Linked DNA regions of Homo sapiens: region 1 is linked to region 2. The links come from fine-mapping of genetic effects on gene expression. Tissue or cell type: subcutaneous fat. Region 2 holds a variant in brackets; the other region holds the start of a gene. All regions are shown on one strand. Distances are from middle to middle.

Region 1 (5,147 bases), 300 kb after region 2:
CACAGCCTTTTTTTTTTTTTTTTTTTTTTTTTTTTTTGAGACAGGGTCTTGCTCTGCTGTCACCTATCATAGCTCATCGTAACCTCAAACTCCTGGACTCAAGCAATTCTCTCACCTCAGCCCCCCAAGTAGCTGGGACTACAGGTGTGCCAGTAACATTTTGCCTTTTTGAAGAAAGGGATTTGTGAGTTTACCATTCCTCTTTTATTATTATTATTACTTTCTAACAGTGTTATTCCTTCTACATTTTTTGCTTGGCATCCTACTGTAAGAAAGTTTTCTTTTCTCTCCCATTTATTTATGTCAGTATGGACTCATGGATTCTTTCCTTTTTATTCAATGGGTTATAATCCATTACTATGATTATTTATTGTGATGCTCATAATTGGTCCTCAAGGGTACCTGCACTTCTACAGTATAGGTCACAAGAACACAGCCTTACATTTAAAATGAGCACAAAATACTTGCTTTCAGGGTCTCTCTGATTCAGATAGCTCTGTGAGCAAGGCAAACAATCATCTTTCCTGTAAACTGTTTGCTAAAAGGCTTCTCTGCTGGTACTGAGTATGGCGAGAACTCTAGGTTTTCTCACTCTAGGTCCCTTGTGCTTTCCACTCTATTCAGCAGTCTCCTTTAAGGACTGAAGGGTAAAACTTCAGGTAACAACTCCACAGTGGGAGGTCTTGTCCTTGGCAAGACTTCTCCAGAGTAGCCTACAGCCTATGTGTAAGGTAACCCTGGAGTCAAGTGCTGTTTGATACAGCATCAGCGTGAGGTTAGGTTATGCTGGTTTGAGCAAAGATGGGAGGCAGAGAGACACCCTGAATTTTATTACCCACAAGAATTATTCAGGATGAGTTTTTCCCCCCTTCCAAATTACCCAAGTCTTTTTTTATACAGAAAGACAAAAAAAGTAGCTTGAGTCTATAATTCCTTCCCTACAATTTCCCTTATTTTTAATGTGCAAGTAACTAAAAAAGCAAGATCACAGAAGGGTTTATAACAAAAAGCCAAAGTCCCCAGCCTCAAATCACTCCTCCTCTTAGGAAAACTTTTTTTTTTTGTTTGGTTTTTGAGACGCAGTTTTTGCCCAGGCTGGAGTGCAATGGCGCAATCTCGGCTCACTGCAACTTCCACCTCCCGGGTTTCAAGCAATTCTCCTGCCTCAGCCTTCCAAGTAGTTGGGATTACAGGCATGCGCCACCACGCCCAGCTAATTTTGTATTTTTAGTAGAGATGGGGTTTCTCCATGTTGGTCAGGCTGGCCTCGAACTCTCGACCTCAGGTGATCCGCCCGCCTCGGCCTCCCAAAATGCTGGGATTACAGGCGTGAGCCACCGTGTCCAGCCTCGGAAAACTCTTAATTGCTTCCCATTTTTAGTTCTGGCAGCTCTCTCCATATTTGTGGAAACTATTCATTGGATTATCAATGTAAGGTATTATCTGTCGACTCACTTCTAAAATAGATCAGGATTTAACACTCCTCTCCACCTCTTCCCTCTCTCTGAATTTCTAACAGTTTATTACCTCATGTTCTAGAGATAATCTTTCAATTGTATACTTAAACCTCGATTTTTTTTTGTTTCGTTGCTCAAAGTTAGTTAGATATTGGCCCTGTTGTCTTCCATCAGCTGCACCTTTACCTTTACGTCAAGGTTGAGAACATTGACCTTCAGGTCTGTCATCCTGCTTAAGAGTTTCCGTGCTTTGTCTGCAAGATGGTGCTTAAAGCTTTACCTAGGAGCAGTATTTGCTGGGTTATGTCGGTGGAGGACAGCGTGCTCTGCCTCGCTGGCTACTAAGTGCTGGAGCTGCAGCCTGTCCCCTCCAGGTGCAATGTCACGTCCCCAGATGCTTAACTTGTGGTCTAGGGGTACCTTTTAAAAATCGTTGCAACACTGCTTACAATTTTCGCCCTCCAAGTGGACAGCTTCGGGCATCCCTCACCGCCCCAGATTCTCAAGGGGGTCTGGTGCCCACCGTTTTATGTAGCGTGAGTTTAATTCCCAGGGCTCAGATGTCAAGGAGACAAGAGCTACCGCTCAGTGGGCGTTTTCTCAACCCAAACTCCCGATCGACCTCGAGTCTCCCCGCCGGACCCGGAGCAAATCTCAGAGTCAAGATGCGAGAAGGGGTGGCCGGGCGGCGGACCTCAGGCTTCCGGCACCCTTGCGCTTCCCGCCGGCACGAAGGACTCCCCTGGACAACCGCCCGCCTCTCAGAGGCCGGAGTCCTAGGCCCTCCGGCCTGCGTTGCCTGTCCACAGACGCGCCGGCCTCGGGACACCCACCACAGGGGTAAGACGCGCCTCTGCCAGCTCCCCAGCCCGAAACCCAGAACGCCCTCCTAGGAGCCTCACAGCGCAGATCAGGGGACGGGCTTTCGGCCGCACCCCTTCACTCTTTCCCCGCCTTCTTTGTTTATTCCGGACCCACCATTGGCTGCTTGCCCTCGATACCGGGCGAGCCGCCGGTCTTTGGAGAGAGGCGATTGGACGAAGTCCCTGCCGCTCGGCCAGCAGCCCGCTCGCGATTGGTTGAGGCGCCGCCGGGGGTTTGAATCGCATCCCCGGCCGGGGAGGGTTCTGCCAAAGTGCCACGTTGGGCCCGGCGGCGGCGTGAAGACTGGCGGCTGCGTGAGACTCCGGCTCCAGGCGTTCGCACCGTAATGCCCGGCCGTTGGGGCCGTCGGTAGGCGCGAGGCGAGTCGAGGCAGCCGGCCGGTCGGCGGCCGCCGGCGGGAACGGGGCTGAGGCGGCGCAGCGGAGTCTGGGCGGCGGCGCGTCCCGCCCGAGGGCGGCTCTGGCTGAGGGCGGAGGGGCCGGGGAAGAGCCCGGGGCAGCGGCTGAGGCGGGACGGCGGCGGGGGCCGCTGCCCCTAGAAGACCCAGCCGAGATGCTGGCGGAAAACCTGGTAGAGGAGTTTGAGATGAAGGAGGACGAGCCGTGGTACGACCACCAGGACCTCCAGCAAGGTGAGGGCGGGGGCGCCCCGCGGGCGGGCGGCGGCCTGGCCCGGGAGGCCCCCGCTGCGAAACTGTTAAAAAGTTGCTTTTTGTGGCGGCGGAGGATGCAGGTGCCGGGAAGGGCTCAGGCTCACCTGGCGGCTGGGCCGGCCGTGCCCGCGGATCCCGCCCGCAGGAAGCCTCGGCACGGGGCCCACGGCCTTGCTAATGCGCAGTTGAATATCAGCCCCGAGGCGCGTGGGGGCCAGGGACGAGCCAGGCACCGTTTTAAGCGCTTTCCGTGGATTAGCTAGTTTAATCCTCACTGCATTCCTCCGAGGCAGACCCGGGTGAGCCAGTGTGTCCCGCAGTAAGTGGCATAGCCCGAGAAGCCGCCCCGTCGCAGGCTGTCTAGCCCAGCGCCTTTCATGGCCAGCGTGGAGGGCCGGCTGCTGCAGGTGGTAGTTGTTTTGCGGCGTAGCGGGAGCTGTGCGCTCCGCACCGTAACTCCAGGAGACAGTAACTTTTTAAAAATTAATGTTTGAGGGTACATGGTAGGTGTATATATTTGTGGGGTACATGAGATGTTTGGATACAGGCACGCAGTGTGAAATAAGCACGTGATGGAGAACGGGGCGTCCATCCCAGCATTTATCCATTGAGGTACAAACAATCCAATTACACACTTTTGTTATCCCATTTTCCATATGAGGAAAGCGGAGATTAAAACGGTAAAGTGGCTTGCCTAAAGCTAAGTGTGGGAGGGAGTGTTTTTTGAACCCACACACTCAGAAGAAGAGTTGTAGTCACTGCTCAAACCCCATCTCTTCCTTACCATCCTAGTTTACAGTTTTTTTCAGTTGGGCGTTAAGCTGTTAGGCATAGTTCACCAGATGCCAATTGAAACGACAGAAGAAAGAGCGCATCTATCTCTGCCACTTTTCTTCAGTTTGCACGCCAGCTTTCACTTAGAAACAGGCCTGCCGATGGTGTCTCCAGAGAACAATCGTAGAGTAGCCCACTCTTTGGGGCCAGTGGGGCCCCTGTTTTTCTTATACTAATAGCAGGAGCTAGCAGTTGGGGAACACTTTTTATGTGCCTAACACTGATAGGCCCATAACACAGTTGCTCATTTAATTCTCCCAGTAACACAATAGAGGTAGTAATGTTGGGGAGTGCTAGGGTTCTCCTTAAGACTCCAGAGCAAACGTTCTTAACCGCTATACTGAGTACTGAACAATCCTCAGGAATTTTTCCAGGCATCTTCAGTTTCTGCAATTCTGTGTAAATGCTCTCAGCTCTAATCTTGCAATGAAAATTAACATCTCATTTAGTTGAATATTAAATGATCATGTTGCTTGTTCATGCTAACCACTGAACATGGCAGAAGAAAAGAATGTAGACCTGAATAACTCAGAAAAGGAAAATAAAATGAGCACCTCTTTTGGAGGAAGATAATTTCTTAAATTAACATGCAATCACTTTAACCAAAGTAATTCACCTTTATTACACTTACAGAGTCCAAGCTACTTAGTGGTTGCAGTGCAGTGTTTGGCACCATCTTCTTTATGTCCAAGAGACAAATTTATTATACATATTAACAAACCTGTTTTCAGATTTCCCCGTAAGGATTGATGGCCTAGTTTGATAGTTTCTCCAGGATTTGTGAGGCAACCACTGTACCACTGCAGTACTTCCCTATAATTTAATTTGTATCATCACAACTAAATATTTCTCTTTCCTGTATTTAAGAAGCATTAATCTTTAAGGGCATAGAGGGGGCAGGTTCTTTTTTCTTGTGTTTCCAGCATCTAGCATAATACTTGGCACATACTGGAAGCTCGATTTTAATATTTGTTGAACTGCACTGAAGCACTCGCACAGAATTGTTTTCATGGCTCTCTTCCATCAGGTGCCTTAGTCCACGCTGCATTCTCCCGCTGTGGGAGGTTGTTAGGAACAACAGCTGTAACACTTCAATCTACCGAGCAGCAAGTGCAACGTGTCAGGGTTACACGAGGAATTCTCTTTAACCTCTGATCAAAATAAAGTCATCAGCTCTTCAAGTTTAACCTTAAAAACACAGGTCTGGGCTGGGCGCAGTGACTCATGCCTGTAATCCTAGCACTTTGGGAGGCCGAGGCGGGCATATAACCTGAGGCCAGGAATTCGAGACCAGCCTGGCCAACATGGTGAAACTCCAT
Region 2 (5,147 bases):
TTATCCCCTTTCCTGCTGCTCAGTGGAAGACAGGTGGCTCCTGTACAAAGTTAGGTTCCCCATTTTTTTTCTAGATCCCACCCTTTCATTTATTTCCTGCCCTGTTTGTTTTATTGTTTGTTTGTTTGTTTGAGACAAAGTCTTGCTTTGTCACTCAGGCTGGAGTGCAGTGGCACGATCTCAGCTCATCGTCACAACCTCTGCCTTCCGGATTCAAGCGATTCTCCTGCCTCAGCCTCCCAAGTAGCTGGGATTACAGGTGCGTGCCACTGCACCAGGCTAATTTTCTCTATTTTTAGTAGAGACGGGGTTTCACCATGTTGGTCAGGCTGGTCTTGAACTCCTGACCTCAGGCGATCTGTCCACTTTGGCCTCCCAAAGTGCTAGGATTACAGGTGTGAGCCACCGCACCTGGCCCCTCTTTGTTTTTAATAGTAATGGATGCCTCTTCACCACCACCATCCCCTCAGAGCTAGATACTCCCCACTAGCTACTGCCTCCTCCCTTCTCTTCTCAGCCAAGAGACTCAAGAGTAGTGTAGTCTATGCTCAGGGACTCCACTTCCATCCAGAACCTCCAGGAGTGCCATTCACATCATGCTCTGTGAGGGTGACATATCTGGAAACATAGCTCTGTGGAACACAGCAAGAGAGAAGCCCCAGGATTTGAGTTCTACCCACCCCTCCATCCACTGCTCTCTGGCTCTCATCACCGCACTGAGCCAGTTCTGAGTAGGGTCATAGAAAACACCATATTTGCCCAGCGAAATAGACATTTTGAGTAGTGATCTTACACAACCTCTGAGGACAGTGGCTCGGTCAATCCTTCTGTCCTTCTCCACCCTTGGCTCCCCTGACTCCACTCCCTTCTGCTTTTCCCTCTCTCTCTCTGACTGTGCCTCTATTTGTGCCTTAGTTCTTGACATTCATCTGAATTCCCTTCTTGGCTCTTCTTATCTTCTTTTTCCTCCCACTCTTTCTAAGTGATGAGGAGGTAGTGAAAGCTCAACACATGAACGGATTCCTAATCCAAATTGTTAGCACTCCTATCCATTTGAATTCTTAACTCTTTCTTGAATCCACCCTCCTCTTACTATCCCTACTGCAATTGCCCACACACATCCCACCCAGCTGCCAGTGTGGCTTTTCAGTGGAATGGGACTCTCTGTACCTTTCATCACTTGAATACTTCCTCAGCCTCACACCCAGACAGGACATCTTTCAACTGTATTAAATCAGAAATCATATCATATTTCATCAAATCTAAAACACTGTGCTGCAGCACTCTGTTGACCTTTCAAGAAGGTACCAAAGGGATATTTCCATGCAGCGTGGCTGCCAGCACTTATAAATGGATGAAAGTTATGCTGAGAGGGAATCAATAGTCATAAGACAGAGATTTGTTTGTCTTCTAAATGGTCTACTCCAAGAATGTGAGAATCCACCATGCAGTTCCCAGGACAAAATCAGGAATGGCTGTCATCTGGCATTGATTACAGAGGACTGGAGAAAGATGGATCTGGGATCATGGACAGGGAAGAAAGAAAGAAAGAGTAAGAGAAGGAGAGGCGAGAAAGAGAGAAAGGAAGGAAGGAAGGGAAAGAGAGAGAGAAGGAAGGAAGGAAGGAAGGAAAGAAAGAAAGAAAGAAAGAAAGAAAGAAAGAAAGAAAGAGAGAGAGAGAGAAAGAAAGAAAGAAAAGAAAGAAAGAAAGAGAAAGAAAGAAAGAAAAAAGAAAGAAAGAGAAAGAAAGAAAGGAGAGAAGGAGAGAGAGATAAGAAAATGTACTTCCTAGATCCCATCCAATGTGATTGTCTATGGACAATTGAGACCCACGAGGAAATATTTGATGCTACCCTTTTGATCCTGACGATACCAGGGATTGGCTTCGAATAACCCTGGTTCTTTCTGACAATGAACTGGGTCCTTTCAGATCTAATAGGTCATAAAGGCAATTTTACAAAAGTGAATTCAATCTCATTGTTAAACTATTAGAATAATTAAATACCCCCATTCCTTGTGACCTACAGGAGAAAGTCCAAAATGTGAAAGAGCATTATGTGGGTGGGGACTTAGAGAATATTGGAAATCTCCCAAACCCTCTAAATATATCCCTACTGCTTTGTTATTGCCAGGCAGCTTATAAACAGCAGTGACTGCAGAGGGAGGAGAGGTGGTGAGAGTGAAAGGCTGCCATGTGCATGGTGTCTGGCTCAGCCTGCCCAAGAGGCCAGCACCCCATCATTCCCCAATAAATCAGGAGGTCATTTTTCACTGAACTGAAGCTAAATACTCCCATCGTTTTCTCCCCTAACCAGTCCCAAGATTGCTCCGTGCTCTTTATTACCTTTCAATGACTTAAGCCCCTGAACTGAATAACTTCATCAAGGTGTCAACCTAAACAGATTTT[C/G]CCCATAATGGTCCAACTCTCACAGGTTCTTAATGAAAAATATTGATTTCTAAGGATTAGTTGCAGATTTATGTGTTGGGATGCTGATCTCTCTGTCACCTGACACCTTATCAGTATATGAAAAAACCTAGTTTCTCCTTCGTGGTTTTTAAAAAAAAAGCAATCACCGGCTGTGTCAAGGGGCAGCTTGGGTCCAGAAAAACAAATAAAATTCTCTGTCTGGATCCCATGGAATACTTAACAGCTAGTGGGGGTGTGGATGGGGAAGGCGCTGAGACACCTGTCTGCCTTCCTCACTAGCATCTTCACTGGTTGGGTTGTGGGGAGACCAGGTGCAGAGAAGCTGGAAAAGCAAATGGAACAAGCATCCATCCCTCTTGGTATGACAGATCTCCAAGACACAGTCTGGAGAAAAGCTTGTCGTGTACACCCTGTTTGGGGCTGGAGACACCAACTGGAAGAAATACAGCAGCTGCCATCTCAAAGTGGCATTCAATCAACACCAGGCTAGGTTGGCTCTGCCAACTCACTCTGTTAAACGTGGTTCTCAAGGGATGAAGTTAAGACTTTGGCACCTAAAACCTCAGCAAGTTGCAGAGCAGAGCAGAATCTCTCCCATACCCGGAAATGGCTGGAATGGAGTAAGATTCATTATTTATCTATTTGATAAATATTTATGGAGGGTCTATGTGCCAAGCACTATACTAGGCAATGGGGACGCCATAGTCAGCAAGGCCAGATGTGGGTTCCTGCCTTCATGGAGAAGGTGACCAACACACACACACACACACACACACACACACACACACACACACACACTCACACATACATGTAGAACTGCAACTTCAACACGATTCAGGAGAATGGGGACACAGGGCTGCAGCAGCCTGTAATGAGGGCATTTACCCAGTAAAAGACGTCAAGAGAGATTTGTCAGAGGAAGTGATGGTCAAGGTAACACCTGAAGGATGAGAAGGAGCTCACTGGAAAAGCAGGAAGAGTGGGGAGCATGTGGGCACAGGAAATAGTCTGTGGGAAAGCCCTGTTCCGGAGGAGCCCAGCACCACCAGTGTGGCCAGAGTGCAGAGAGAGCTGGTGGTAGGCATGACACAAGAGGGCTCCGGAGAAGTGGGCAGAGGCCAGATTGTGCTTTGGGTCACTATCCCAAGTGCAACAGGAAGCCATTGAAGGATTTTCAGATCCACACCTTGCAAGGATGACTTCGGTTGCTCGGTGGAGAATGGATTGCAACAGCCTCACCGTGAAAGCAGGAGGAAAGGGGCTGAGGAGGTGACTGCAGTGGTCCAGGCAAGAGATGAAGCAGTGATGCTGCTGGAGACGGAGAGAAGAGGACAGAATCCAGAAATATTTTGGAGAAGAAAAATCAAGAGTCATTGGTATGGAATCGAATGTGGGGTGGGGATAGGATGAAGGAAAGGAGGTGACAAGGATGACTCCCAGACTTTTGACTGAGCTGCTCCTTCTCTGCAGTGATGGCCTCCTCGTTTTGGGCCACTAAGGGCTTCTCCAACCACTGGGAAGCACTTCCAGAACAAGGTCCTCATTTCCTTTTCAGCTCTCACAGCAGGGACTGGCAAACTTCCATAAAGAACAACATAAAAAATATTTTAGATTTCAAAAGCTGTACCATCTTTGTCTCAATGACTCAACTCTGCTGCTATAAAGCAAAAGCAGCCACAAGTAATATGTAAACAAATTATTGTGGCTGTGTTCCAATAAAACTTTATTTAAAAAAAAACAAGTGATGGACAGGATTTGGCCCTCCAACTGCAGTTTGCAGACCCCTGCCCTAGAGGACTGGGAGGAATCTGGAAACTAAGCTGAACTCCTACATTCCCCAGGCCTGAAGAACTGGAGTATTCCATTGAAATAAGAGTACTTATTCCCAGGCCCGGAAGCCTGAGACCTTCCCCCAGAAATACAGCAGGGGGCCGAGGACTGTAGTGTACCCAAGACCCCACAAAAGACCTAGGGTCAATGGGAGAATCCCAGAGGTGTTACTAGGCTGATGAAATAGACCTCCAACTTCCCCTGGGCTTCCTCAGGTCCCCAACACCATCCAGAAAGGAAATTCAGCACAAATCTTTCATATACTCATACATACTCATCTGAACTTATAGCAGAATAAAAAATAAATAATAATAAAAAAAAACCAGAAGGGTATATAAGAAACAAGTAAGTGCTTACATATAAGCCTGAGGGTGAGAATGGGATGTGAATGAGACTGTCACGTGTATATATTTTTGCATCATGTTGAGTTCTGAACTACATGAATATATTACTCAAGTATTCTCTACTCAAAAAAATAGTAAATTTCTTCATAAAACGCACAGAAATGTATCTAGTTCTTGCCATTAGATTTTTTTTAACTATTGAAAAAGCTCTATATTTATCCTTGAAATTACACAGGGGGCCGATTTGAAGCACAGCTGCATTGCACATGAAACGGCAGTGTGTCCTGGTGACAAATTAATAGAAGTCCCTTTTTCTGGTTTGCTTCTCAGGTCTGCTCTCTCGTTACTAGTAGTCTACTTGCAGCTTCTCCTCTTGTTTTAAACAACTCCCCTTCCTCAGGCAACAGCACCCACCCTCACGCTGGGGAACCTCCCTCCCTCATTCAAAACTGTCGGGTGGGACTGTCAATCAAGAGGCTCTCTGCCTGCCCAGGCATGGTCATGTGACCCAGGCTAAACCAATCAGATTAGCTCTCCCTAGAATA

The links. PIP is the estimated chance that this variant, and not a neighbour inherited with it, causes the effect.
Region 1: CDR2 starts here. The variant in region 2 is fine-mapped to the expression of CDR2 in subcutaneous fat (GTEx, PIP above 0.99).

What each region holds. Positions count from the first base shown.
Region 1 is chr16:22,372,057-22,377,203 of GRCh38, reverse strand. It overlaps CDR2 (cerebellar degeneration related protein 2), which reads left to right and starts at 2,585. Exons shown (of 5, transcript NM_001802.2): 1 at 2,585-2,973. The coding sequence starts at 2,895. CDR2-DT (CDR2 divergent transcript) reads right to left here and starts at 2,317. Exons shown (of 3, transcript NR_148970.1): 1 at 1,981-2,317; 2 at 1,644-1,877. RefSeq lists enhancers at 1,813-1,862, 2,203-2,282 and a silencer at 2,823-3,052.
Region 2 is chr16:22,670,688-22,675,834 of GRCh38, reverse strand. No RefSeq gene overlaps it. Among named protein-coding and RNA genes, the nearest start is that of LINC02890, 60 kb to the right of the region's middle. The variant C/G (reference allele first, on the strand shown) is at 2,408.